Homo sapiens: one gene and its partners. The protein of the gene in region 4 binds, or shares a complex with, the protein of the main gene of each other region. Each region holds a gene or a part of one and is shown on either strand. Other genes may lie near its edges. The genes, in order: MTOR, ZFYVE28, EIF4EBP1 and RPTOR. A codon is read from its position in the direction of its gene.

Region 1 (7,175 bases), on a different chromosome or scaffold from region 4:
AGGCTCAGCCTCCCAAACTGCTCAAGGTATATAACCCAAGGATTCAAACCCAAGTAGGCTAGGCCGATAGCCCACAATTTAACCTCCCTACTACACTGCCTCTTTTAAACATCAGTCATTGTTTAATGAATCTAGGCTTTCTAAATGTTCCTCAATCAGATCTCTCAACCTTTTTAGAATCCCCTGCCTGACAAGGGCTAGGGGGAGATCTGTGTTGGGTGACCAGGGCCATAAGTAAATTTATCATCATACTTTCTTATCCAGAATATTAAAGGAAACTTCTCTCTAAAGAACCTCAGGGCAAGATGCTTGGAACCGGACCTGCCGCCGCCACCACCGCTGCCACCACATCTAGCAATGTGAGCGTCCTGCAGCAGTTTGCCAGTGGCCTAAAGAGCCGGAATGAGGAAACCAGGGCCAAAGCCGCCAAGGAGCTCCAGCACTATGTCACCATGGAACTCCGAGAGGTGCTTCTGGGATCTGGGGCCAGTCATTGTGGGATGTGTGGGCTAAATGTACCATCACTGGTTTACATTTTTTTTTGTACAGCTAAGTGAGGATTTGGAAAACAGAGATTATTTTATAAAGGCACCCAACCTGTCACATCCATAAAACATGCAGGTTCTTTTGCAGCAGTTGCACATTTTTGTAGCATTTTTCTTGTTTGTGGTCACATTTTAGGGGCCAGAATAGACTTAGCTGTTTCTTTTAACTTTTTATTTTTTCCTTACCACATACCACACCCTCAAATGCTTTCTGTCTGATAACAGTGATTGGGATGGGTTTGGAGAGTTGAGAGCTAGGGGCTTTCTAAATAGAGACCAGACTTGAGGTCAGAGACAGTATCTTGTTTCTCCTTTTATCCCTGGTACTAGAAAGAACCTAGGACAGGACATTTTCTGCCACAGAGTAGATACCTAATAAATATTTGTTAAATAATCAGATGATTGCAAGTTCAGGTACTCTACAGTGTAATCCTATAGAAATGGGCAGTAACTTGTCTTCTTTGGTTTGAACTATACCTCCTGCCTCTCAGGATCTAATCTTTAGATGCCAGCCCACTCCCACCACCACAGTTAGAGAATTATTAGAAATTGTTCTGATTATATCTTCTTTTGCAGATGAGTCAAGAGGAGTCTACTCGCTTCTATGACCAACTGAACCATCACATTTTTGAATTGGTTTCCAGCTCAGATGCCAATGAGAGGAAAGGTGGCATCTTGGCCATAGGTAAGGACAGAGTCTCTGGTCACAAAAACAACACACTCACCTTTGTGCCCACTGCACCCTGTGTCTGCCACTTACTGGATACTAGTTCATATTTGCTTAATGAAATTTAAGAAGCCCGTGGCTTTTAATTCTAGCAGCAGCCCTGGGCCACAGGAAAAACGTATTTTTAGATGTGGAAGTGGAGTCTCGGAACCATCGAGTGACTTTTCAGACAGTTTACCAGAGCTGAGACTAGAAGCCAGCTTTCTTTCCACTCCTTCATATTGCCTTTTGTGGGCTCTGCTTCCTCAGTAGAGCAGGGTTTCGCATAGTGGGGCTCACGAATGGAAAAGTGGAATCGGTATAGTTAATAAAAGGCAGGTCTTTTTTTTTTTTTTGAGATGGAGTCTCACTCTTGCCGGGGCTGGAGTTCAGTGGTGCAATCTTGGCTTGCTGCAACCTCCGCCTCCTGGGTTCAAGCGATTCTCGTGCCTCAGCCTCCCGAGTAGCTGGGATTACAGGCACCTGCCACCATGCCCAGCTAATGTTTGTATTTTCAGTAGAGACAGGGTTTCACCATGTTGGCCAGGCTGGTCTCGAACTCCTGACCTCAAGTGATCTGCCCACCTCAGCCTCCCAGAGTGCTGGGATTACAGGTGTGAGCCACCACAACTGGCCAGGCAGGTCATTTTTAACTTCTAAGGACTGGTCATCAGTCCTGTGAATTATTATCCAGTCCCAGTTGTTTTCCCTTTTTGGGGGGTAGGGGAGAAAATTATACTAGCATGAGATTATTTTGCTTTATGTAAATATTTCTGGCACAAGTATTAAATATCTGGGTTAAAATGAAAATTGTATCTGTCCTTGCCATCTAGAAATGTACTCAAAGTAGAATGGAGGGTTCACTCGCCAGATTTTTTTTTTTTTTTTTTTTTTTTTCTCTGAGACAGAGTCTCACTCTGTCGCCCAGGCTGGAGTGCAATGGTGCAGTCTCGGCTTACTGCAACCTCTGCCTCCCAGGTCCAAGCAATTCTCCTGCCTCAGCCTCCCAAGTAGCTGGGATTACAGGCGTGTGCCACCACGCCTGGCTAATTTTTTTGTTTTCTTTTTTTTTTTTTTTTTTTTGTATCTTAGTAGAGACGGGGTTTCACCATGTTGCCCAGGCTGGTCTCAAACTCCTGAGCTCAGGCAATCCGCCCGCCTCAGCCTCCCAAAGTGCTAGGATTACAGACTTGAGCCACCGTGCCTGGCCGGCACTCACCAGCTTTTAGTTGAAGTCTGCGTACTTTCCTGGCCAGCATACGCCCCATCATCACCTTTTGCCTTCCTCTCTTTTGCAGCTAGCCTCATAGGAGTGGAAGGTGGGAATGCCACCCGAATTGGCAGATTTGCCAACTATCTTCGGAACCTCCTCCCCTCCAATGACCCAGTTGTCATGGAAATGGCATCCAAGGCCATTGGCCGTCTTGCCATGGCAGGGGACACTTTTACCGCTGAGTACGTGGAATTTGAGGTGAAGCGAGCCCTGGAATGGCTGGGTGCTGACCGCAATGAGGGCCGGAGACATGCAGCTGTGAGTGTCTACAGGGAGGAGCACAGCCAGGCTTGGGGAACGATGGTGTCATGGGGGGGTCTTTTGCTTCCTTCTGAGGCTCATTCCTTAAAAAAGCTGGTTAGAAGAGCTAGGATTCCAGGCTGTGAGATGGGGTAGAGTCCGTCCTTAAGAGGGAATCTAGCATGGTGTGGTGGGGATCAGAAGCATCAGCTGCGTGCTTTCCAGTCTGCTGCCCTTCGGAGGAGGCAGTACTGTGAGGAGGGGGCACGGTACCAGGAAAAGGACACACACTTGGACCCTGGCTCAAGTCTTGGCTTTGCAACTTCCTACCTAACTCTGTAACCTGGGGCAGCTTCTGACCTTCAGTTTCTTCCTCTGTCAAATAAAAATAACAACAGGATTAAACATTAAACAGGATTATCCATTCAGTAAATATTTACTACATACCTACTGTATTCCAGGTAGAGTTCTAGGCTGTTAGTATAGTGGTAAAGAAAACATAAAACACATCTGCACTTCCAGAACTTATGTTCAAACATTACAAGCATTCTGTGTTTGTAAACAACCTAGGATAATGAGCACTGAGATGTTTAATCAATTTTGCTTTCCTTCCTCTGTCCTCAGAATTTCCTAGCTAGAAGAGTGAGCAAGCCTTCTCTGTTCCTGGTGTGTATGGCTCTAAGATGACAAGAGACTGTACTCCTGAGAGAACAAAACTCTGGTACCAATGAGAGTTCTCGGTTTGCTTTTTTCTCCAGGTCCTGGTTCTCCGTGAGCTGGCCATCAGCGTCCCTACCTTCTTCTTCCAGCAAGTGCAACCCTTCTTTGACAACATTTTTGTGGCCGTGTGGGACCCCAAACAGGCCATCCGTGAGGGAGCTGTAGCCGCCCTTCGTGCCTGTCTGATTCTCACAACCCAGCGTGAGCCGAAGGAGATGCAGAAGCCTCAGTGGTACAGGGTAAGGAGATGGCTCCATTCCCACCACTAGCAAAGCACATCTGCGTAGAGAATCACCTGGCCTAAAGGGCAGCCACAAGCCCTTGCCATGGAGCAAGAATCACGTTTTGGTTTGCTCTCAAATGAATTTTTTTTTTTTTTTTTTTGTGATGGAGTCTTGCTTTGTCGCCCAGGCTGGAGTGCAGTGGCGCAATCTCGGCTCACTGCAACCTCCGCCTCTTGGGTTCAAGCGATTTTCTCCCACCTTAGCCTCCCGAATAGCTAGGACTACAGGCGTGTGCCACCACGCCCAGCTAATTTTTGTAATAGAGACAGGGTTTTGCCATGTTGGCCAGGCTGGTCTCGAATTCCTGACCTCAGGTGATCCACCTGCCTTGGCCTCTCAAAGTGCTGGGATTACAGACATGAGCTACCGCGCCTGGCCTCCAATGAATTTTTTATGCTCAGTATGAATCAATAGTTACTTTATTGCATTTTATTAAAGCAAACATCTATTGATAGCCATACCATTATTCTATACATTATTTTATGTATGACTAAGAATGCAAATATGCCAATTAAACTGTGACTTGGTACCTCTTTCTTTTTTTTTTTTTTTTTTTTTTTTTTTGGAGATGGAGTCTTGTTCTGTCACCAAGCTGGAGTTTAGTGGTGTGATTTTGTCTCACTGTAGCCTCTGCCTCCTGGGTTCAAGTGATTCTCCTGCCTCAGCCTCCCGAGTAGCTGGGACTACAGGCATGTGCCATCACGCCCAGCCAATTTTTGTGTTTTTAGTAGAGACAGGGTTTCACCATATTGGCCAGGATGGTCTTGATCTCTTGACCTCATGATCCACCTGCCTTGACCTCCCAAAGTGCTGGGATTACAGGCATGAGCCACTGTGCCCGGCCAACTTTGTACCTTCTTCTTATTAATAATTAATTATAAGACATCTCAGCTGGATGCTCACGCCTGTAATCCCAACATTTTGGGAGGCCAAGGCAGGAGGATTGCTTGAGCTCAGGAGTTTGAGACCAGCCTGGGCAGCATGTGGGATCCCGTCTCTACAAAAAATAAAAAAATTAGCTGGGCCTGGTGTTACACGCCTGTGGTCCCAGCTATTTGGGAGGCTGAGGCGGGAGAATTGCTTGAGCCCAAGAGATCAAGGCTGCAGTGAGTCATGATCATGCCACTGCACTCCAGACTTGACAACAGAGTGAGACTCTGTCTCAAAAAAAAAAAAAAGACATCTCTTTTCAGAGATGTTAAAATACGGAAAAATAGGTGTCTCAAAATCAGTGAGATACAAATGATACTAATTTAGAAAGTGCCATTTCTCTCTGCTCTAGTATAATGAGGCCTGTGCTGATTACTGCTGCAGAGGGAACTTATCAGTGAGTCTTATATTAGAAAAAGAGCTCTGAACATGGGATTGGGAGATGCGGGTTCCAGTCTTGCCTTTGCTGTGTGATCTTGGACAAGTCACTTAAATTCTTTGAGCCTGTGTTTTTAGCTGTTAAATAGGGATGATGATGGTATCTTCCTCAAAGGCTTATTATGAGAATTGAAGCTGGGGCTGGGCGTGGTGGCTTACACCTGTAATCACAGCACTTTGGGAGGCTGAGATGGGTGGATCACTTGAGGTCAGGAGTTTGAGACCAGCCTGGTTAACATGGTGAAGCCCTGTCTCTACTAAAAATACAAAAATTAGCCAGGCGTGGTAGTGTGTGCCTGTAATCTCAGCTACTCAGGGGGCTGAGGCAGGAGAATCACTTGAACCCAGGAGGTGGAGGTTGTGGAGAGCCGAGATTGCGCCACTGCACTCCAGCCTGGGCAATAGAGCAAGACTCCATCTCAAAAAAAAAAAATTGAAGCTGAATTAAATAAAAGAGATTGATCAGTTAGTTTTGTTGATGACTGGCACTAGGCACTGAGCAGGCGTGGTAGCACCTCAGAACCCCCAGTGTAGATGGGATGGGCCTGTATTCTTTCTGGGTTTGTACTCTGTCTCTAATGAAGGCACCCTGTCTCTCTACATAGCACACATTTGAAGAAGCAGAGAAGGGATTTGATGAGACCTTGGCCAAAGAGAAGGGCATGAATCGGGATGATCGGATCCATGGAGCCTTGTTGATCCTTAACGAGCTGGTCCGAATCAGCAGCATGGAGGGAGAGGTGAGAAGCCACGGCAGAGGGGAGTCCAGGCTCCCCGTGTACCATTCTGTGAGCGAGGCAAGGCGAGATCCATGTCCTCATGGAGCTGACATTTTGTGGCAGGAAACATAATAAATAAGTAAATAAGATAATTTCAGATAGCAGCAAGTTCTATGAAGAAAGTCAAACCAGAATAGAATAGAGAGTGATGGGGAGGGGGTGAGTGGAGGGTCAAGGAAGGCCCTCCCTGAGGTGGTGTTATTTGACGGGGGTCCACATGACACGAAGGAGCTACCTTGCAGCAGGCCGGGGGACTGTGTTCCAGGCTGAGGCTTTGAGGTGGAAGAGTGTGAGACATTGATGAAACAGAAGAAAGGGAAGTATGGCTGGTGTACCGGGAGCAAGGGAGAGGGAAGGAGGGGCCAAATTAATAGGCCCACGGTTCACAGTAAACACGAGCTTTCACAGGGGTAAACATTGGAAGTATGCACACAGGCGAATAATGTGATGTCATGCGTTTCTAACAATCACTGACTGCTTATAGGAAAAAATGTGGGGAAAGGCAGGAATGAAAGCAGGGAGACCAATTAGGAGATGTGTTGGCTTGAGAAGGTGGATTTAAAAGTGCATGGATTTTATTAGGGAAACAGCCTTCAAGAGAATATGGGGAGGAAGCTGGGAGAAGCATCGGACCACAATGCACATCTGACCCTGAGTAAGCAAGAGGGTAAAATTCGGATAGAAGTGTTCTAGCCTACTCTGCAGGGCCACCGCGGGGTCCTCAAGCCAAAGTTGGCTGTCAGAGAGGTCTGTGTCTCCCAAGAGCAGGATAGCCTTAGCATCCCTACTGTGTTCTGTCATTGGCTGGGAGCAATGGGTGACGTTGGCACAAACTTAGTGATGGGTTTCAGAGCAGCAGCTGGGGCCCTTGGTTATGCGCCTTGTAGTTGGAGGTTGCATTCTCACGGCTGCCAGACGAAGCTATTACGGTAGTCTGGGTGAGTGACAGTGGTGGCTTTGACTAGGAGTGGTGGCACAGATACTGAGAAGTAGTTGATTCAGGATATATTTGGGAGGTAAAGCTCCATCTGTGAGACTGGCTGTAGAAAATGAGCTGTGAAATTTTACCCCGGGGATTCCTGCTTATAATAGACACAGTGCTTGTTAGATAATAGCCATGCCCAGATGTGGGAGCAGCGCATGCAGCAGTGTGCAGAAGCAGGAGGAGTCTGGCTTCAGATCCCCACCGCTCTGATGACTGTGCGACTCAGGCAAGTTACCTGTTTAGCCTCATTTTTCTCCCTTTGGACAGGGGCTCTT
Region 2 (7,175 bases), on a different chromosome or scaffold from region 4:
AGACTCCGTCTCAGAAAATAAATAAATAAATAAATAAATCACTAACTCTAATTTTTTCTTATGGAAGCTGATTTAGAAAATTTGGGGAAGACAAGAAAATAAAACTCGACTGTCCGTGCTCTTGCTTCCTGCAGAGGACTGCCCTTAATGCATTGGTTGATCTCCTAGGGGCCAGTAGATTACAAGATGAAAAACTTATTAACTGAACCTCTGCGGACACCATCTGCCTCCGTGTTTTGTTTGTTGTGGTTGTTGTTGTTTTGAGATGCAGTCTCGCTCTCTCGCCCAGGCTGGAATGCAGTGGCTGGATCGCAGCTCACTGTAGCCTCTGCCTCCCGGGTTCAAGCGGTTCTCTTGCCTCAGCTTCCTGAGTGGCGCGCCACCAGGCCCGGCTAATTTTTTGTATTTTTTTTAGTAGAGATGGGGTGTCACCGTGTTAGCCAGGATGGTCTCGATCTTCTGACCTCATGATCCGCCTGCCTCGGCCTCTCAACGTGCTGGGATTACAGGCGTGAGCCACCGCACCCGCCTGGCTGCCTCTGTTTTCTTCTCACCTGTGACGTCTCTTCATCTTCCGAGGCATCATGCATGTCTGGCCCCTCGGGCCTCTCCAAAGCCCTTCCCCTGGAGGCCCACGGCGGCCAGATCCACACCTGTGTCCTCTGTGCTCACCCCACTCCCTGGAAAGATGCCCCACCTCACCTCCACGCTATGCTCTCCAGGGCTTAACCCCACCCACAGGCGGCCCTGAACCTGCCTGGCTCCTCCCTCTGTGGAATTTTCCAGCTTGAAGTATCAGGGTGAGCCCCGGAAGCTGGCACAACCGTCCCCCAGCTCATACAGCCAGGGCTGTGGACCCACAGCTGCAGTACCTGAGCTCAAACTCTGCGAACAGGACGTCGAAGTGCCTCAGCGCTTCCCTCATCTTCTCTGTGTAGGTGTTCAGGTCCCGCAGCGCCTGGTCACGGAGGGCGCCCCGCACGTCCTCCAGGCTGCGCGTCAGCTCCTTGGCCAGCGGGCGCATGGCCATGCTCTCCAGCTCCCGGTTCATGATGATGGAGCCGGCGGCCAGGCACTGCGGGAGGGGACACACTCAGGGAGGGGCCCGGGTGAGGGCCAGGCTCTCAGGGGTCGCCGACCCGGGGAACCTGACTGCGCACCTCGGGGCCCCTCTTCTCACCCCACAGCACAGGCCAGCTCGTGTTCCCGGTCCCCGCAGGAGGTTTTTCTTACATTCAGAGCAATCGTGAGGGCGATAACCGATGTCCCCCAATGTGACCCACGGGGTCCTCACAGGGCCCCAGGAGCAGGGAGGGCAGGGCATGGCAGGGCAGGTAAGGGCAGGGGAGGGGAGGGCAGGGGAGGGGAGGGGAGGGGAAGGTGGACTGAGGCCCTTGGGTCTGGGGGCTCCCTGCAGGAGGAACCCTGGTCATGTGACTCTTTTCCGCTCCCCGTCCAGGCCACAGGGATGAAGTTCAAGGAGCTTGGAGCTTCCAGGCTCCACAATCAGGTCTGTGCTCCCAGGGATGAAGCAGCCGGGCTGATCCGGGCCCGAGGTCCCCAGCCTATCTAGGGAGCCACAGACACCACCTGTCAAGTTGCTCACTGCCAGAGAAACGCAACCTTCCCCGGAACGCAGACTCATCAGTGTGAGAGTCCCTGGGCTCCTGGGCAGGTAAGGAGGGCTCCTCCGCACCCACAAATCCACCCATGTCTGCCCTGGGTGCTGCGAGGCAGCTCCCCAGCGTGCGCTCAGCAACTGGGAATTTCACCAAGCTGCCCTCTGGCACAGGGGCTGAGTCCAGGCCCTGGTAGACCTGTTGTCACAGGGAGGCTTGTCTAGAGGCCGGGGCCTCGCCAGGTTTAGGATAGAACCAATCCACCTGCTGTCCCCTCAGGGATGATCAAGTGATGCAGGACAAGAAGCCATTTCCCAGGTGACAGAATGAGACGGCGCTGATCGCCCAGGCCCAAGCTGCAGGTGGGCACAGAGCTTGGGGCACCAGGACCACACAAGGAGCTGTGCCCACCCCTGTGCATGCATGCCCCTGCCAGGCCAGCCGGGCACAGAACACGCTCCATCTCATGACTGCCCCAGGACCCACTCCACGGAGGTGGAAACTGAGGCTGGGGAGGAGGGAGAACCTGCCCGCGGGCCCCTGTAACTAACCCAAGCCTCGGCAGAGGACACCCCAACCAGGTGGCTCAGAAGGTGGGGTGGGCAGGGTGGACACAGGGACGGGGCAGCGTGGGATGAAGACTCCGCACCCCAGGGATTCCTAGAAAGGGGAGGCGGGCAGGATGGGGACGGCACAATAGAGAGGGTGGCGGTGTCGGGGCTGAGGTCAGGCTCGGGAGCACGGCAAGGGGAGGAGGCTGGGGAGTCCGCATGGTGGGGGCCTGGGGGAGACTGTTCCCGCCACCTTGAAGGGCACCTTCCTCTCGGTGCCTCAGTTTCCTGATTGGGAGATGAAGATGAAGATGACAGGCTATTGCCACATGTGGCCTGCGTGGGGCTGCAGCACGGCTCCCCAGCCCCTGCTGCTGCCCATGCTGCAGGGCCGGAGGGGAACACTTGTTCCTGATGTGGGCATTACTGCCATTAAAAACCACTTTTAGGTCCTGGCTGTCTGGGGGCCTGTGAACCTCATAAAAACCACATGGGAAATTTCATTTGTATGTATAGTTTTGGGGGCACCAGTTCATGGCTTTCCCAGATCCTCCAGGGGTGCACGGCCTACCAGGCTCAGACCACACCACGTAACCCAGAGTGGACGGAGCTCTTGGAGGAGACACCAGGTCCCGGCACCTGCAGGCGCCCATGCACAAGGTTCGCAGGGACTTGGCTAGACGCCACCCCACATCAGGACCTCCGAACCCGGGTGGCCACCCGCTACCTCGGCACCGAACCACAGCTGGCCGGCCAGGTTGTCGTGCCGGATCTCCTCAGGGAACTTGACGCAGAAATCTCTGGGGGCGCGGTCCTGGGGGATGCACTCATCCATGATCTGGTTAATGATGTTCAACACATTGTCCTGAAACAGAAGACAGGAGAAAGTGCGCCAATCGCTGTGTCCAGCTGGCGGCCGCCATGTACTGCTGGAAAACACGCACGGTGCATGTGACTGTTTTTTAGGATTATTAAAGTGATAGAGGAGGCTAGGCACGGTGGCTCATGCCTATAATGCCAGCACTTTGGGAGGCCGAGGCGGGTGGTTTACCTGAGGTTAGGAGTTTGAGACCAGCCTGGCCAACATGGCGAAACCCCATCTCTACTAAAAATACAAAAATTAGCCGGGCGTGGTAGCGCACACCTGTAATCCCAGCTATTAGGGAGGCTGAGGCAGGAGAATCACTTGAACCAGGGAGGCAGAGGTTGCAGTGAGCCGAGATGGTGCCATCGCACTCCAGCCAGGGCAATAAAGAGCAGCAACCGCAGGAGCCATGGGCTCAGACGGACTCTCAGTCGGCTGGGGACCTGCAAAGCCCTCGTCTTCCCTGAAGCTCAGTGCATTCCTCTGTAGAGTCAGGGACACAGACCACGTCTTAGGGTCAGAAGAGTGCAGTTACGTCAAGGCCAGGCACAGCTGGGGCCTGCTCCTCCATCCAGGGTGGCGTCCCCTCCCACCTCCTCTGGAACCAGCAGATCAATTACAGCAACGCATAAGTCAGTCTGCACTGGAAGGGGGTGCTGCTTTCACAACATGGAGACCCTGACTCCATCCCTCATGGCTGTTCAACGAGGGACAGGTCACTTCGCCTCTCTGATCAGCCAGGTCCCCTTCTGTAAGCCTCAATACACAGCAACTTCTGGCTTTTTGTTTATTTTTAGAGGCAGGGTCTGGCTTTGTCACTCAGGCTGGAGTGAAGTGGCGCAATCATAGCTTACGACAGCCTCAAACTCCAGGGCTCCAGCCATCCTCCAGCCTCAGCCTCCCGAGCGGCTGGGATTACCAGAGTGAGCCAGCATCCCTGGAAGCAGCTTCTACTTTAAAGACTCTTTAAAATTATTTTACTTTATTTCCTTATGTTCAAAATATAAAGTATAACAGAGTGTTTTGAACACTTTGTGTATATGAGGGAGAAGAAGCCCATTTTTTTACATCTTAAATTGCATTCCATCCTTTTCTGTAAATTTGTCCTATTCTTTAAACATTGACTATTCATTCTGTAGGTTACAAAAACACTGGAAGTTTAACTTTTGCTTTAATTTGTTAAATATGAAATCAATACACGTTCATCCTAGGAAAACTGGAACCAATGGGAAAGGAGAGAAGTGGGGAAAATGTCCTTGGGGAAATATGACCGCAGGTGGGACACAGTTCCTTCTAATTCTCATCTTCCGAGGGCCTGTTTTCAGCCAACGTTGAGACGATCCATGTACGTAATACTGCCTTCTGCTGTTGTAGCTGCTGCAACATGTTATTACATCTGTCACATATACAATTTTTGATGGATAGTGACATGCAATTCCAGCATATGGACCGTCCTGTTAACTCACTCCTTTGTCTTCTGCTGGACACTGACGATGTGCCTAATCCTCCACCTCCACGCAATGCTGCCCTCACTACTGTGGTGCACGATGCTCCGAGTGTGGATTACTTCCTTAGGACCCACTGATTGCTAGAAATGGAATTACAATGTCAAAAGTGCAAACTGCGTTTCCAGGCTCTAATGAGATACTGCCAAATGGCTTTCCAGAAAGAGCACACTAATTGACACTCTCACCTTGGCAATTTTTAATCTCGACCATCCCTCCTGAGGCTTGACTTTCATTTTTCTTAGGAAGAGATACGAAAACTCACTATGAGTGGGGAAGCATGACCCTTCTCAGGCAAGAAATCATGCACTAAACTCTGAAGGAAATTCTGCACTGTAAGAAAAATGTTAAGCCTTTATAATACAAAAAATAAAAATAAAATTCAACCAATAAGTGGGACTACTGTCACTTCTTTTTAAAAGGTTTTCTGGGTAGGAAGGTCCCTTGCTCATGATTCAACAAACAAATGAGCAAACAATGGCAATCACAGCAACAGGCGGTGCACAGTAAGCCCCAGCTGTGATGAAGAAGAGTCCAGGATCTGAGGCTCAGCCAGGTGGCACAGCTTGTCTAAGGCTGTAGTGCTCAGCCCAGGTGGCACAGCTTGCCCAAGGCTGAGGAGCTTTTAGTGCTCAGCCCAGGTGGCACAGCTTGCCCAAGGCTGAGGAGCCTTTCATGGCCGTGCTTGGATTCATTGCCCAGCCTTCCTGGTCTGCTAGAACATAGCTGCCTGAGGGAAGGGTCTTCTGTTATTCACGATGAGTCTCCAGTGCCTAGAACAGTGCCTCACACACAGTATGCTGCAAGAAACACTTGCTAGGACTTCTAACGCCAGCCAAGATGGAGTAATAGGAACCCAGTTTACCCCACTCCCAAGAACAACAGTGATTTCCATGACACTGGACATCAGGCCACAAAGGACAGTGATCCCCAAGAGACAGGAAACAAACAAGGTGAGCCCCATGACTACCCCAGCTCACTGCCTTGAGGAAAGTTTCAAGTCATGGAACAGGAGAGGGAACTCGGATGGAACCAAGGCAGTTAGGATTCAGAGAGCAGGAGGCAGAGAAGAGAGAGCTGGACAGAGAGAACTCTGGAGATCTGGGGAAGGTTTCAAGGGTTCAGCCGAGAACTGATCAACACATGCCTGTGGGGAGATGACCTAAGTTCAGGAAAGACGCACCTGAATGATTTGAGGGAGCAGTGACAGGAGCTCTCCAGGAGGCTAGAGTAGCAGGAGCACTCACAATTCACAAAGTATTGAGTAGAGTACCCAAAAGTGTTCTGCCTCCATGTGAACAGCAGTTAACTCTAGACTAAACACAGCTCTGGTCCTGCCTAACACCTTAAAAATAAGACCCAAAGGAATAAACTGTTTCTAAGTAACTAAACTACATCACGGAACAACCAAAAATATTTACAGTAATACAAAAATAGCCCCCAGCAGGGTGAAATTCACTATGTCAGGTACCCAATTAAAAAATTACCAAGTTTGGCTGGGTGCAGTGGCTCACGCCTGTAATCCCAGCACTTTGTGAGGCCAAGGTGGGTGGATCACCTGAGGTCGGGAGTTCGAGACCAGCCAGGCCAACATGGAGAAACCCCGTCTCTACTAAAAATACACAATTAGCCGGGTGTGGTGGCGAATGCCTATAATCCCAACTACTCAGGAGGCTGAGGCAGGAGAATCGCTTGAACCTGGGAGGTGGAGATTGCGGTGAGCTGAGATCATGCCATTGCACTCCAGCCTGGGCAATATGAGCAAAAAAAACTCTGTCTCAAAAACAAAAAACAAAAACAAAACAAAACGGCCAGGCGCGGTGGCTCACGCCTGTAATCCCAGCACTTGGGGAAGCCGAGGTGGGTAGATCACGAGGTCAGGAGATTGAGACCATCCTGGCTAACACAGTGAAACCCCGTCTCTACTAAAAATACAAAAAAAATAGCCGGGCACCTGTAGTCCCAGCTACTTGGGAGGCTGAGGCAGGAGAATGGCATGAACCCAGGAGACAGAGCTTGCAGTGAGCTGAGATCACACCACTGCACTCCAGACTGGGCAACAGAGTGAGACTCCATCTCAAAAAAAAGAAAAAAAAATTACCAAGCTTGCAAAGAATGAAGAAAATATGACCCATGACTAAAAGGAAAAGCAATCAATCAAAATCAAGCCAGACTTGACAAAGATGATCAGGGACATTAAGACGGTTGTTATAACTGATTCCCATGTGTTCAAAAAGTTAACTAGAGACAACGAAGAAACTAAAAGTCCCTAACTGATTTAGAGATGAAAATTACAGTGTCTGAGATGAAAAAATATACTGCATGAGATTAACCTCAGATTCAATATTTCAGAAAAAAAGAAGAGTAAACTTGAAGACAGCAACTGAAACTATCCCAACAATTCAGAAATAATAATAGATCATCAATGAACTGCTGGACAACTTCAAAGATCAAATATGGATGTAATTCAAGTCCCAAAACGAGGAGGAATGAGATAGAAAAAAATATTTGGAGGAATAATGGCCAAAATTTTTCCAAATTTAATAAATATAAACTCATAGAACCAAGTAAATGAACCCCAAGCAGAAGACACGTTTTTAAAAACTATACCAAATTACAGCATAATCAAATTGGT
Region 3 (7,175 bases), on a different chromosome or scaffold from region 4:
ACCAAGAGGATAGAGGGAACTCCCAGGCTTCCAGCTGTCCCCAGCAATGCCCCAGATGTATGGGTAAGACCATCTTGGAGCTTCCACCCCAGGACAGTCCAGCTGTACACTGTATGCAGCCATATGAGTAAGCTCAGCAAGATCTACAAAGAACCCAACGAACCCAAAAGATGGAGAACAATAACAAATCGCTGCTGTTTAGTTACTGTTTGGGGATGGCTTGTTATATAGCAATAGCTAACTGATACAACCATTTTCACCAAGTGTCCCTGCACACCTAAGAAGCCCTGATCCTCTGGGCCTAGTATCTGAGCTCTCTTAATGAGCTTTCATGGGCATAACCATCAGATTACATGGAGCCCTTTGCTGTGCATACCCAAATGTCAGTGAGCAGCAGTTACTTACTCTTGCCTTGTCAGCAATGCTGGATGCAAACAGGTAAATAAACAGCATCAGTCACAGTGTCTGAGACCCCGGCCCCAATACTGGCTTGTTCAGTGTAAGAAAAAGTTGCCAGATGCAGTGGCTCACATCTGTAATCCCAATGCTTTGGGAGGTTGAGGCAGGAGGATTGCCTGAGGCCAGGAGTTCAAGACCAGCCTGGGCAACATAGACCTCATCTCTACAAAAAATAAAAATTAGCCAGGTGTGGTAGCATGTGCCTGTGGTCCCAGCTACTCGGGAAGCTGAGGCAGGAAGATTGCTTGAGCCCAGGAGCTCAAAGTTACAGTGAGTGGTGATCGCGCCACTGTACTTCAGCCCATAGACACTCCAGCCTGGGCCACAGAGGTGAGGCCCTATCTGTTAAAAGTTTTTTGTTTTTGCTTTTTAAAAAAAAGAAAAAAAGTCACATCCACTCCCTGTTCGGTAATATTGGGACAAGAAATACCAGCAATACTGTTTAATACAAATGTTCCTTGACTTAAAATGAAGTATGTCCCAATAAATCCACCATACATAGAAAATATCTTAAGTCAAAAATGCATTTAGGGCCAGGTGCAGTGGCTCACGCCTGTAATTCCAGCACTTTGGGAGGCTGAGGCGGGCAGATCACTTGAGGTCAGGAGTTTGAGACCAGCCTGGCCAACATGGTGAAACCCCATCTCTACTAAAAATACAAATTAGCTGGGTGTGGTGGCACACGCCTATAATCCCAGCTACTCAAGAGGCTGAGGCAGGAGAATGGCTTGAACCTGGGAGGCAGAGGCTGTAGTGAGCAGAGATTGCACCACTGCACTCCAGCCTGGGCGATAGAGCAACACTCCAACTCAAAAAAAAAAAAAAAAAAAAAGTATTTAGTACACCTAACCTACTGAACATTATAGCTTAGCCTTCCCTACCTTAAATGTGCTCAGAACACTTACATTAGCCTACAGTTGGACAAAACCACCTGGCAACACAGCACACTATAGACTCTATAGTGGGCTGTCCAATCTTCTGGCTTCCCTGGGCCACACTGGAAGAAGAATTGTCTTGGACTACACATAAAATACACTAACACTGGCTGGGTGTGGTGGCTCACGCCTGTAATCCCAACACTTTGGGAGGACGAGGTGGGCGGATCACCTGAGCTTGGGAGTTCGAGACCAGCCTGACCAATATAGAGAAACACCATTTCTACTAAAAATACAAAATTAGCTGGGTGTGGTTGCGCGTGCCTGTAATCCCAGCTACTCAGGAGGCTGAGGCAGGAGAATCACTTGAACCTGGGAGGCAGAGGTTGCAGTGAGCCGAGATTGTGCCATTGCACTCCAGCTGAGCTTAAAAAAAAAAAAAAAAGAAAGAAATTTCATAATGTTTTAAGGAAGTTTACGGACTTGTATTGGGCCTCATTCAAAGCTGTCCAGAGTGCATGTGGCCTGAGGGTCTCGGGTTGGACAAGCTTGTGACTGGCCATTTGTCCTCATGTTTGTGGGGCTAAATGGGAGCTGCAGCTCACTGTCCCTGCTGAGCATCTCGAGAGCATGTACCTCGTATCGCTGGCCCAGAAACAGATCAAAATTCACAATTCAATGTACAATTTCTAGGCTGGGCGTGGTGGCGCACACCTGTAATCCCAGCTACTTGAGAGACTGAGGTGGGAGGATTGCTTGAGCCTGAGAGGCGGAGGTTGCAGTGAGCCGATATCATGCCAATGCACTCTAATGTAGGTAATAGAACAAGACTCTGCCTTTTTTTTTTTTTTTGAGATGGAGTCTTGCTCTGTCTCCCAGGCTGGAGTGCAGTGGCGTGATCTCGGCTCACTGCAACCTCTGTCTCCCGGGTTCAAGCGATTCTTCTGCCTCAGCCTCCTGAGTAGCTGGGAGTACAGGTGTGTGCCACCACACCTGGCTAATTTTTTGTACTTTTAGTAGAGACGGGGTTTCACCATGTTAGCCAGGATGGTCTCTATCTCTTGACCTCGTGATCCACCCACCTCAGCCTCCCAAAGTGCTGGGATTACAGGCATGAGCCACCGTGTCCGGCCAAGAATCTGTCTTAAAACAATTTTTAAAAGTACAATTCCTACTGAACACATATCACTTTCATACCATCGTAAAGTCAAAAATTGTAGTCACACCATCATAATCGGGGACTATCTGTATGAGGATAAGTAGGAGGGTTCAGAGAAGGTTATTCTCTGGCTGGTCCAGTGGCTCACGCCTGTAATCCCAGTGTTTTGGGAGGCTGAGGTGGTGGATCTCTTGAGCCCAGGAGTTCCAGACCAGCCTGGGCAACATGACAAAACTCTGTCACTACTAAAAATTTAAAGATTAGCCAGGCGTGGTGGTGTGTGCCTGTAGTCCCAGCTACTGGAGAGGCTGAGGCAAAAGGATCACCTGAGCTCAGGGGGTTGAGACTGCAGTGAGGCATGATCGTGCCACTGTACTCCAACCTGCAACAGAGTAAGACTTTGTCTCAAAAAACAAACAAACAAAAAACAGACAACATCATCAAAACAGAGAAAGTTAGTTTCTGCCCCTGGGACATTCTGAGATAAACACTTATACCCTGCAACTGAAAGGACAGAAAAGGAAATTTAAACGTCATCATTAAGCCAGCGGAGACTCAGGCCTGACAGTAAGAAAACTAGGTTATCCTGACCAGGCATGGTAGCTCACGCCTGTAATCCCAGCATTTTGGGAGGTCGAGGCGGGTGGATCACAAGGTCAGGAGATTGAGACCATCCTGGCCAACATGGTAAACCCCGTCTCTACTAAAAATACAAAAATTAGCTGGGTGTGGTGGTGCGTGCCTGTAATCCCAGCTACTCAGGAGGCGAGGCAGGAGAGTCACTTGAACCAGGGAGGTGGAGGTTGCAGTGAGCTGAGATCATGCCACTGCACTCCAGCCTGGGCGACAGAGCAAGACTCAGTCTCAAAAATAAATAAATAAATAAAATAAGAAAACTAGGTTATCCTGAGGGGAACGCTTTCATTCCAGCATTCTTTTCAACTCTTCACCTTCCAGACACTAGACCTGGCATTAGGTCATGTGGATACAAAGATGAGTAAGACTGCTCAGAAAAAATTTCCTGGCTAACCTAGGGAACAAACACGTAAACAAAAACGTGTGATTCATTCGCTATGAATCATAATGGAGAGAGACCCCAGGCATGGGTCTAAGTCAGACCAGAAAGAAACAGGTTTTTCATGGGTTTGTTGGCACAGGCAAGAATCTATGTGCACAACTGAACATTTTTTTTTTTTAAAACTCACCTTAGAAAGCAATGTTCCTTTTTTTCAATATTGCTGTGCCTTCCCAGGCCAAGCACAGTGGAGCATGCCTCTAATCCCAGAACTTTGGGAGGTCAAGGCGGGTGGATTACTTGAGCTCAGGAGTTTGAGGCCAGCCTGGGCAACATGGCGAAACCTCATCTCTACCAAAAAATACAAAAATTAGCCGGTTGTGGTGGTGCATGCCTGTAGTCCCAGCTACTTGGGAGGCTGAGATGGGAGGATTGCTTGAGCCCAGGAGGTTGAGGCTGCAACTGCACTCCAGCCTGGGTGACAAAGTGAGACCCTGTTTCAAATTAAAAAAAAAAGAAGAAACAATATTGCTGTGCCTTCCTAACTCATCTTCCAGAACATGAAAATAAAGGTCTATATGAGAAAATGCCTCGCTACTTTATGTCAATGGATAAATATGGTATTGCTCTGCTGACCCTTTTTCCTCAGATTTGGCAATGAAGGACTTTTTTGGTCTTTTAGGAAGCAAAAAAATCAAACTCTCTCTCTTTTTTCTTTGAGACGGAGTTTCACTCTTGTCACCCAGAATCGTTCGAGTGAGTCTCGTGCCTCAGCCTCCTGTGTAGCTGGGATTACAGGCGCCTGCCACCAGGCCCGGCTAATTTTTTTTTGTATTTTTATTAGAGATGGGGTTTCACCATGTTGGCCAAGCTGGTCTTGAACTCCTGACCTCAGGTGATCTGCTTAGCCTCCCAAAGTGCTGGGATTACAGGTGTGAGCCATCGCACCTGGCCTCTCCTTTCAAATAATAAAAAACTAGAGGGTCAGACTCAGAAGCAAAGCATGACCCTGTCTCTACAAAAATAAATAGCCGGGTTTGTGGTCCCAGCTACTCGGGAGGCCGAGGCAGGAGAATTGCTTGAACTCAGGAGGCGGATGCTGCAGTGAGCTGAGACGGTGCCACTGCACTCCAGCCTGGGTGACAGAATGAGACTCTGCCTCAAAAATAAAATAAAATAGGCCGGGCGCGGTGACTCATGGCTGTAATGTCAGCACTTTGGGAGGCTGAGGCGGGCGGATCACGAGGTCAGGAGTTCGAGACCAGCCTGGCCAACGTGGTGAAACCCCATCTCTACTAAAAATACAAAAAATTAGCCAGGCGTGGTAGCGCGCCTGTAAACCCAGCTATTCGGGAGGCTGAGGCAGGAGAATTGCTTGAACCCAGGAGGTGGAGGTTGCAGTGAGCCGAGATCGCACCATTGCACTCCAGCCTGGGCGACAGAGCAAGGCTCCATCTTGAGGAAAATAATAATAAATAAATAAATAAATAAATAATTAGCTGGGCATGGTGGTGCGTGCCTGTCATCCCAGCTACCCGGGATTCTCCTGTCTCAGCCTGAACCTGGCAGGTGGAGGCTGCAGTGAGCTGAAATCATGCCACTGCACTCTAGCCTGGGCGACAGAGTTAGACTGCCTCAAAAATAAAATAAAATAAAATAAAATAATAAGGCCGGGTGTGGTGGCTCATGCCTGTAATCCCAGCACTTTGGGAAGCTGAGGCGGGTGGATCACCTGAGGTCAGGAGTTTGAGACCAGCCTGACTAACATGGTGAAACCCTGTCTCTAATAAAAATACAAAAATTAGCCGGGTGTGGTGGCACATGCCTGTAATCCCAGCTACTTGGGAGGCTGAGGCAGGAGAATCACTTGAACCCAGGAGGCGTAGGTTGCAGTGTGCCAAGATTGCACCACTGCACTCCAGCCTGGGCAACAAGAGCGAAACTCTGTCTCAAAATAATAATAATAATAAAAAGGAGTCTGGGGATTGGAGGGATTTTGGAGTGCTCTACACCAGGAACCCCCCACCAAATCTTTAATAAGGGACACAGTGTGGAATGCTTCCAACACTTTAAAAAATTTTATTTATTTAATTTATACCGACAGAGTCTCACTATGTTGCTCAGGCTGGTCTTGAACTCCTGGCCTCAAGTAATTTTCCTGTCTCAGCCTTCCTAATAGCTGGGATTACAGGAGTGAGCCACCGCACCCAGCTCCTTCAAACACTTTAAAAGGAAGCTCAGGTAAATGTGAGAAGAGGGTCCATCGTTTCTCCCTCACTGCATTAATGTCCAAGCTCTTTTAACCCATCCTTAATAATTTCTTCCCTCCATGTGACTAAGGCCTCAGGACATGGGCTGTGCTCTGGCTTTGGTGCCCAGCCTACATCCCCTTCTTCCCAGCACTGCCTGTTTCATGTCCAAAGACTTGGGAGCTGCTCCAAGGTAAGCTTCCTGGGCACAGACCTTGTTTGCTTAACCAAACAGGGTGCCATTAACACCTGCAGCCCTACCTGCTCACCTCGGATTCACCTTATCCAGGTACGGGTCTTTGGCACAACTGCCATCCAAGCCTGTATATAGGCTTCAGAGTCAAACATGCAACACGGAGCTGGGAATGTGGAGATTGATGAGGGAAAGTTTCTTTCTGACCCACTCAAAGGTTCTGCTGGCTAATGAGCTGTTTATGGTGTCGCTGGATATTTTTAAGACTCCACAGACTCAAATATTCATACATGACACTCCCTTCGGCAATTAAATTATCTTAAGTACTCTGGACAGCTAACCTCAGAGCAGAGCCTCAGTGTGCAAATGGTTAATGACCATGGAAAGCAAACTGGAGGCCAGGTGAGGTGACTCATGCCTACAATCCCAGCAGTTTGGGAGGCTGAGGTGGGAGGACTGCTTGAGCCCAGGAGTTTGAGGCCAGCCTGGGTAATACATAGAGACCCTGCCTCTACAAAAAAATAAAAAAATTAGCAGGGCATGGTGGCACGTGCCTATAGTCCCAGCTACTTGCAAGGCTGAGGCAGGAGGATCACTTGAGCCCAGGAGTTTGAGACTGCAGTGAGCTATGTTTGTGCCACTGTACTCCAGCCTGGGTGACACCATGAGACCCTGTCTCAGGAAAAAAACAAAAAAAGGGCCGGGTGCAGTGGCTCACGCCTGTAATCCCAGTACTTTGGGAGGCCAATGCAGGCGGATCACGAGGTCAGGAGATCGAGACCATCCTGGCTAACACGGTGAAACCCTGTCTCTACTAAAAACACAAAAAATCAGCCGGGCTTGATCGCGGGCGCCTGTAGTCCCAGCTACTTGGGAGGCTGAGGCAAGAGAATGGCGTGAACCCGGGAGGCGGAGCTTGCAGTGAGCCAAGATCTCACCATTGCACTCCAGCTTGGGCGACAAAGCGAAACTCCATCTCAAAAAAAAAAAAAAAAAAAAAGGAAAGCAAACTGGAGTCATAGGAATGGAGATAGTGCAACCCAACTGCTGCTTCTTTCCCTCCAGGGACAATCACTTGAGGGCCATTCCCAGCAGGAGTGACTGGGGGGTACTTACTCCAATGGTTTTTCCTGAGAAGCTGACAGTCCCTATAAGTAAGCAGGTGCAGACAGCCATGCAGACACTCTATCAAAAGCCTGGCTCTCCACACCACGATTTAGAGATC
Region 4 (7,059 bases):
ATGTCAGCTGCCATTTGTCTTTATCTTTGAACCTATGCCATTATTCTTCTTAAATGTGGCCTGTTTCATTCTCTTATGCTACCATCCCCACTCAATATCATTTGAGTTTGCAACTTCTGTCCTATAGCATGTGTGATACGGTCCTTGAGGGAAGAGATGACAAGATTCCAAAGGACCTGACCTTTGGAAGAGGGAAGAGATGACAAGATTCCAAACTCCCACACACTCAACTGAAGATGTTAGCTGCTGATTTTCTCCACCGAAAAACAGATACAGCAAACTTTCTCCCCAGCTCCTTTCTAAGCAGCAATCTCAGTAGTCACTAAGAGTCACAGAACTTTTGTTTCTCTTAACAACCTGTGAAAAGCTTATTAGGGAATGTTGATCATTCACAAATTAATGTTTTAATTAAAAGGTCAAACGTATACCCATTAATCAGTTTCAAACTGTTGGAACATAGGTTTAGGACAGCAGAGAGAACCACATTTCAAAATAACAACAACAAAAAAACTGCCCTCCACAAAGAATTTTTTAAAAAGTCTTTTCATATATGTATAGCAACCACAAAAGCTTTTAACTATATAGTTACTACTAAAGATGTCCATAAGATAGAATTTATACAACCTCCCCCAATGACTAACTTATTTAACTCCTTAAAATGCTTTTGGATGAAACAAATTTTCCTAACCTTTTAGAAGTAAGCCAAGTCAGTAGCTAACTGGTTACTACTGACTGACTGACTAGAGTTACCAGAAGTTTTATTTATTTATTTATTTTTGAGACACAGTCTCACTCTGTCCCCTAGGCTGGAGTGCAATGGTGCGATTTCGGCTCACTGCAACCTCTGCCTCCCAGGTTCAAGCGATTCTCCAGCCTCAGCTTCTCGAGTAGCTGGGATTACGGGCACCTGCCACCAAGCCCAGCTAATTTTTGTATTTTTAGTACAGACAGGGTTTCACCATGTTGGCCGGGCTGGTCTCAAACTCCTGACCTCAGGTGATCCGCCTGCCTTTGGGAGGCCTGCCTTGGCCTCCCAAAGTGCTGAGATTACAGGCGTGAGCCACCGCGCCCAGCCCAGAAGTGTAATCTTATATATGTTCAACATCATATACTAAAAAACAATAATATTCCATAAACATATACATAAGCCTAGAGAAAATCAAACATTGTAACACCAACTTCCTCTTTTATACCACTGAAATGTGCAAATAAAAGCAGCCTGGAGGGAGAAAATAACTTACAAAAAGACAAATTATAAGTGTGCATAGAGGAGAAGCAGTACTACCCTTTTGCTTTTGAGGCCAGGAAATAGATGGGTGTTTTATGAAGGACAAATCCAACAAAATTCGGCTGTTTTCTTTCCTACCAGCTGCTTGTGAGTCACTCTCCACACTCCAAACACCATGCGGACACCCTAAAACCTGCACCCAAGTCTCGACGCCTCATACCCTAACTCACGATTAAAGAAATCCTGTTTCCAAGTTACAGCAACAGGACACTACATAAAAGGAGGAAAATCTAGCTTCAAGAGAAATTGTTTAGAAGACTAGAATGAAGTTCAGTGTAACTTTATAATAACTTTGCACTAATTTGTTACTAGTTGAACATTTTCCAGTAATCTCATTTCCTAGCATAGTATATCAGACTTCTGCACTTCACCCAGCTTGGATATTTTAAAAAGTAGACTAATCATGTGGGTATAAAGATTATATCGCACGTTGTCCTTCCTCTAAGTGTTTACAGAACTAAGTAGTATGCCAAAGAGCATGTAAATACTCGCAATGCTCTATTTTCAAATTTGCTTAACTTTTATTATCTGAATTAGAACTTAGTTGGAATTGAATTAACACTACCCAGTGAATAATGACTAACCAAAACAGCATTTTCCATTTTCAACCAAAAACTGCAGTCTGAAATGGCTTTTGCTTTCTAGTTGACTTACAACGTGTGGCTAGGGGGAAATGTCGGCGCTTTCCCAAGGACACTTTTCGGGCTGTAAACTTTCTTTGTTGGGGAAACTACCAAGTTCAAGGGGTGCCTTCAGAATCCACTTACCCGATCCTTCATCCTCCAGCTCTGAGCTAAGGATTTGGAGCCTTCAATTTTCTCACAGTGCCTCTTTTTCATAAAAGCCAAAGGTAGGTTCCAGTCTGTAAGATCAGCCTCATCTTCCTCCCCCAGGCCCAGAAGAGGCGATTGCAGCATTTCGGACTCCATCAGTGGGGGAGGGGGTGGGGGAGTCCTTGGCAGCAAGCGCTCGAGAACCTCCAGCCTTAAAAACTAGCGTGTACCAGAATTGGTGAAATAAGAAACAAAAACGGGAAATCGAAAACCAAATGGATAAAGAGTGCGGAGACCCTTACTCAGGCAAAAGTCTGAGATCCTTATCTCTAACTCTGAGCGGGAAGTGGGGAGGTGGGGGCCGCTAGGAAATGGGGCAGCCCAAGAAGCTCCGCAGACACACACCACCCCAGGTCCCAAGCCACTGGCTGCTCCTGAGGCTGTACGTTTCCAGAGGGGCTGCGAGGGGAGCTGCCAAAAGCGTAAGAGACTTCAGGCCTCACGATGACCCTGCTCTCGGCCTCCACCGCCTCAGCAGTTCCGAAGACAGGCAGGCCGCTCTTGGTGCCGGTTCGCCCACTGGGCCGACTGGGCTGAGGTCTCCGGCCAAGGGATCGGGTTCAAAGGGCCCTGGGTCTCCTCCAGCCACTCTCAGCCCTGCGGGTCCCGCACTCGTCTGAGCTGCTGCAACCAGAGCCACGACCGGCCCATCGTGCTCGCCTGCACCCGGTTCCTCAACCTCAGGTCCGCGCGGCCTGGCTGGTCCTGGCCTTCAGCCCCGAGGCTCTCTCCTGCCTGAGAACGAGTCCTGAGAAACGGGCGACACGGAACCACGGAGGAAAGGGACAATGTGGGCTTATTGGGTCATGGGAGCTTTGCCCTCTGGTTTGGAGCTACAGTGAAACTCATCTCATCAGCCCATCAAGGAGGACGCCATATTGCCAGGACCCAGAATGCACCGCGGCCTACGGCGTGGCCGACAGACCAAACCTCCTCAGAGCGGTCTCTCCCCGCCACCCAGCATGCAGCGAAGGAGAAAGAGTCCCCGACCCCGTTACCTCGGTTACCATAATTCCGTTTTCCCCAGTTAATCGCCATTTGTTCAGTAGAGGCGTGTTATTAAAGTCAATCCTACAAATGAAACTGTCGGTTTAATTTATTTTTTCAAAAACATTGTCATTATAAATGAAGTTACATGCTCCTGAAATTAAAGGAATCAACCGCCTTGTTTCTTCCAGATTTTGAAAAAGCGGCAAAAGCTTCACTGATAATATTAGAAAATATTAAAAAGCACTGATAATATTAGAAAATATAGTACTTTTTTTTTTGGAGTGTAGTGTCCTCCACAGTGTCAATCAGATTTTCTCTTTAATTTTTTCATAGAGAACCAAGTGAAAGGCCGGGCGCCGTGGCTCACGCCTGTAATCCCAGCACTTTGGGAGGCCGAAGCGGGCAGATCACGAGGTCAAGAGATCGAGACCAGCCTGGCCAACATGGTGAAACCCCGTCCCTACTAAAAATACACAAATTAGCTGGGCGTGGTGGTGCGCGCCTGTAATCCCAGCTACTCAGGAGGCTGAGGCAGGAGAATTGCTTGAACCCGGGAGGCGGAGGTTGCAGTGGGCCAAGATCGTGCCACTGCACTCCAGCCTGGGAGACAGAGCAAGACTCTTCAGATGAAGAAGGGTCTGAAGCAACAGAAGAAGAGTCTGGAGCAAGATTCGATGAAAAAAAATTTCATCTAATACAATTTTTTGTTTAATCTGTTTCGTTTTCTGAGCAGTTTATCCTTTTTAAATTTTTTTCCCACTTCTTGGTAGCAGTAGTTTATTCTTATTTTGATATAGCTTCACGTGCAGACATCTAAAACTACATGTCTGTGCGTGGAGGCAAGCCTCTTGTGTGACTCTCTTTTTCAATTCAGGAAATTTGGCTCATTTACAATGTATAGAGAACTGTGTAAGGTGGACTATAAAACCAAATGTAGGCAGGGCACCGTGGCTCACGCCTATAATCCTAGCCCTTTGGGAAGCCGAGGAGGGTGGATCACGAGTTCAGGAGTTCGAGACCAGCCTGGCCAACATGGTGAAACGCCGTCTCTAATAAAAATACAAAAATTAGCTGGGCGTGGTGGCGTGCGTCTGTAGTCTCAGCTGCTCGGGAGGCTGAGGCAGGAGAAGAGCTGGAACCTGGGAGGCAGAGGTTGCAGTGAGCCGAGATTACACCACTGCATTCCAGCCTGGGTGACAGAGTGAGATTCCATCTCAAAAATAAATAAATAAATAAATAAATAAATAAGAATAAAACGAGGCCAGGCGTGGTGGTGCACGCCTGTAATCCCAGCACTTTGGGAGGCTGAGGTGGGTGGATCATGAGGTCAGGAGTTCAAGACCATCCTGGCCAAGATGGTCTTGATCTCTCAGGATGGTTTTCCGGGGCTTAGACACATGTGGCCATCCATATCAAAATCTTGATGGCATTTGTGTTCCTTTCAAAATGAGAATGAAGAATACAATCCCAGACCTTTCTCACCCAGCACAAAGCAAGCCTTTAATAAAGGCTACAGGATTAAATCATTGTCATTCCGCACATTCGTTTGGTTATTACACCCCATGGAGCCAATTCTCCTATTGAAACTCAGGGCACCCTCTCTGTTGGCAGAGACTATCCTCACAGTTACCAGCAGAGGCTTCAGGGATGCAGGGTCTTAGGAAGACCCCGTTCTCATCTGAAGGCAACAAAATCACTCCTGTCCTCTGCCTTGTCACCTTGCTCCCCACCTCCGGTGGCTGTAGACAGCTGCATTCCAGCAGCTCTTGCAGGAAGTCACAGTTACAGAAAAGCAGCAACGCTAAACCCATTCATCCCTAACTAGCTCTGTGACCTGGGAAAGCCCACTGAATCTGTGTGAGACTCAGTTTCCTCACCTATAACGTGTGTGACCTTGGGAAATCCATTTTTCGTATCTGAAATTCTAAACGAAGGTGTCAGTGAGCACGTTGAAGTCCAAACCCACCAGGTGGTCAGAATCGCCCAGGAAACTAAAATTCAGGATGCCCAGCTTCCAACCCAGAGCCCCAGATCGGGGAGCAGGGAGACCGGGATTCAGAATCTGCATTTTTTTTTTTTTGCAGTTTTTACAGTTTTATTTAAACACAAAACATGCACATGAGCTGTCTGCTCGTTTTCTTCACTGCGCAGACTGGCATGGGGGTCAGTGACTCTGATGGCCAGCTGGGCGGCTCTTTCTGTGGTGGCTTCGCGGTTCCTGGAGGAAACACTGTGAGCGATCTCAGCGCAGTAAGAAGTGTTGTACATCAGCAGCACTTCCAGCTCCTTGACGTTGTAGACTGAACTTCCAGAAGCCAGTGGGCAGCGTGTGCTTTGTTTTTTTGTTGCTCCCATAACCAATGTTGGGCATCAAGATCTGGCCCTTGAACCTTCTACCAACCCTGTTGTCAATACCTCTGGGTTTCTGCCAGTTACGCTTAATCGTGACACATCGGTCTGACTGGTGCCGGATGAACTTCTTGGTTCTCTTTTTGATGATCTTGGGCTTCACAGGGGGTCTGAGGGCGGCCATGATGCCAAGGAGGAGATGGCTGCCCCCTCCATAGGCAGCGCCAAGGAAGAGAGCCAGAATCTGAATTCTTAAATCAGGTCGCTCTGAGGATAGTTCACAGCCAGGCAGACTTGGAGGTCTTAGACAATATTCGCTCTAAAGTCTCCTGCAGTGATTCAGTTCGGGTCCCATATTGGGCCCTTAATCAATATGTGTGGCAAATGAATGAATGCTATGAAGTAATTGTCCAGACTTCCATCTGACAAAGCAGAAAGAGACTCACCTTCTCCTCAAAACAGCAGAACAAAACACACCCTCTACTGTTTAACACATGTGACCCCGAGCCAGGGGTCCACTCGGGTCCTGGACTGAGGATGAAGACACACACACATTCTATGGTCCCCAACCTGCCACCAATTCCTGCAGATTTCAGCAAAGCCTCTGCCCTCCTCCACCCTTGGTCTCCACGTCTGTGACATCAGGAACTTGGAGAAGGCGAATTTCTAAGGATCCTTCCAGTTTGAAATTCTGTGATTCATGTAAAGACCAGAAAGGGGCTTGTGACTGCTCAGCTCTCACCCTGAAGGTTCAAGGATGGGCCTGAATCATTTTATGGCATCTTGACATTTAAAAGAAACCTCGTTCTAGTATGTCACGGATGATTCTCTTCAAGTCCCAGCCAAGCATTTGGAAGTGGCTCTAGGTTTTTGAAAGGCAGTGAGCATCTGTGAGTAATGGCAGCCTGGAAATTCAAGGGCTGACTTGTCTCACCTGGGTGATTCCATGACTGTGGCATGTGGTGGGCTGGCCACTCGGGGCTGCAGTTCCAATTTCCAATGTCTCCAGTTCTTCACAAGCAAGGACATCTATTGTCCACAGAGACTTTAAATAAGATCCTTTTTTTTTTTTTTTTTTTTTGAGACAGAGTCTTGCTCTTGTCGCCCAGGCTGGAGTGCAGTGGCGCAATCTTGGCTCGCTGCAACCTCCGCCTCCCGGGTTCAGGCGATTTTCCTGCCTCAGCCTCCCGAGTAGCTGGGATTACAGGTGCCCGCCACCACGCCTGGCTAATTTTTGTAATTTTAGTATAGACGGGGTTTCACCATGTTGGCCAGGCTGGTCTTGAACTCCTGACCTCAGGCGATCCACCCGCCTTGGCCTCCCAAAGTGCTGGGATTACAGGCATGAGCCACCGTGTCCAGCTAAAATACTTTAATCTTAAAAACAAAATGTTAGGAATCTCAGAAAACACACAAACCTGGTTTGATTCAAGCTATGAAAACGGTCATGACCAGCCTGGGCAAAATAGTGAGACCCTGTCTCTACCAAAAAAAAAAATTTAATATTTATACCTGTGGTCCCAGCTACTTGTGAGGTTGAAGCAGGAATTTGAGCCCAGGAATTTGAGGCTTCAGTGAGCTATGATTGCACCACGGCAC

Evidence for each region.
Region 1: the proteins of RPTOR (region 4) and MTOR are in contact, whole or in part, in a cryo-EM structure (PDB 6BCU), measured with the Homo sapiens proteins. Residues at the interface, in NP_065812.1 of Homo sapiens: Phe278, Lys282, Cys283, Ser285, Leu286, Pro288, Gln380, Ala381, Asp383, Leu384, Asp387, Glu411, Gln412, Thr414, Ala415, Val418, Trp419, Thr421, Met422, Arg427, Asn428, Glu431, Gln432, Lys973, Ile974, Asp979, Leu980, Glu981, Ser982, Lys986; in NP_001373429.1 of Homo sapiens: His597, Thr600, Pro632, Val644, Ser645, Gln646, Thr647, Ala648, Val649, Ala653, His686, Ala688, Gln689, Glu691, Met721, Asn722, Pro723, Ala724, Phe725, Met727, Pro728, Phe729, Arg731, Lys732, Leu734, Ile735, Leu738, Thr739, His743, Tyr771.
Region 2: the proteins of RPTOR (region 4) and ZFYVE28 are in contact, whole or in part, in a cryo-EM structure (PDB 9F43), measured with the Homo sapiens proteins. Residues at the interface, in NP_065812.1 of Homo sapiens: Arg54 (codon at 2,058), Arg305, Arg306, Thr317, Asp321, Phe337, Arg338, Leu341, Ala344, Arg348, Leu437, Gln438, Leu440, Leu441, Ser442, Gln443, Arg446, Pro474, Tyr475, Lys478, Leu479, Gln481, Ser482, Ser483, Ala484; in NP_066023.2 of Homo sapiens: Arg399, Val400, Phe401, Phe402, Met403, Asp404, Asp405, Val406, Glu407.
Region 3: the proteins of RPTOR (region 4) and EIF4EBP1 are in contact, whole or in part, in a cryo-EM structure (PDB 6BCX), measured with the Homo sapiens proteins. Residues at the interface, in NP_065812.1 of Homo sapiens: Arg54 (codon at 2,058), Arg305, Thr317, Asp321, Phe337, Arg338, Leu341, Ala344, Arg348, Leu437, Gln438, Leu440, Leu441, Ser442, Gln443, Arg446, Tyr475, Lys478, Leu479, Gln481; in NP_004086.1 of Homo sapiens: Glu111, Ser112, Gln113, Phe114, Glu115, Met116, Asp117, Ile118.

What each region holds. Positions count from the first base shown.
Region 1 is NC_000001.11:11,252,540-11,259,714, reverse strand, and holds part of MTOR (serine/threonine-protein kinase mTOR), read left to right. Parts: intron 1-264; exon of another isoform or gene 265-291; 5' UTR 292-305; coding exon 306-467; intron 468-1,121; coding exon 1,122-1,230; intron 1,231-2,549; coding exon 2,550-2,782; intron 2,783-3,522; coding exon 3,523-3,723; intron 3,724-5,741; coding exon 5,742-5,876; intron 5,877-7,175. UniProt on the Homo sapiens protein: Serine/threonine protein kinase which is a central regulator of cellular metabolism, growth and survival in response to hormones, growth factors, nutrients, energy and stress signals.
Region 2 is NC_000004.12:2,338,581-2,345,755, forward strand, and holds part of ZFYVE28 (lateral signaling target protein 2 homolog), read right to left. Parts: exon of another isoform or gene 3,036-7,175; coding exon 2,898-3,035; exon of another isoform or gene 1,460-2,897; intron 1,335-1,459; exon of another isoform or gene 1,188-1,334; intron 1,076-1,187; coding exon 873-1,075; intron 1-872. UniProt on the Homo sapiens protein: Negative regulator of epidermal growth factor receptor (EGFR) signaling. Acts by promoting EGFR degradation in endosomes when not monoubiquitinated.
Region 3 is NC_000008.11:38,033,519-38,040,693, reverse strand, and holds part of EIF4EBP1 (eukaryotic translation initiation factor 4E-binding protein 1), read right to left. Parts: intron 1-7,175. UniProt on the Homo sapiens protein: Repressor of translation initiation that regulates EIF4E activity by preventing its assembly into the eIF4F complex: hypophosphorylated form competes with EIF4G1/EIF4G3 and strongly binds to EIF4E, leading to repress translation.
Region 4 is NC_000017.11:80,540,788-80,547,846, reverse strand, and holds the start of RPTOR (regulatory-associated protein of mTOR), read right to left. Parts: upstream 3,010-7,059; 5' UTR 2,218-3,009; coding exon 2,056-2,217; intron 1-2,055. UniProt on the Homo sapiens protein: Component of the mechanistic target of rapamycin complex 1 (mTORC1), an evolutionarily conserved central nutrient sensor that stimulates anabolic reactions and macromolecule biosynthesis to promote cellular biomass generation and growth.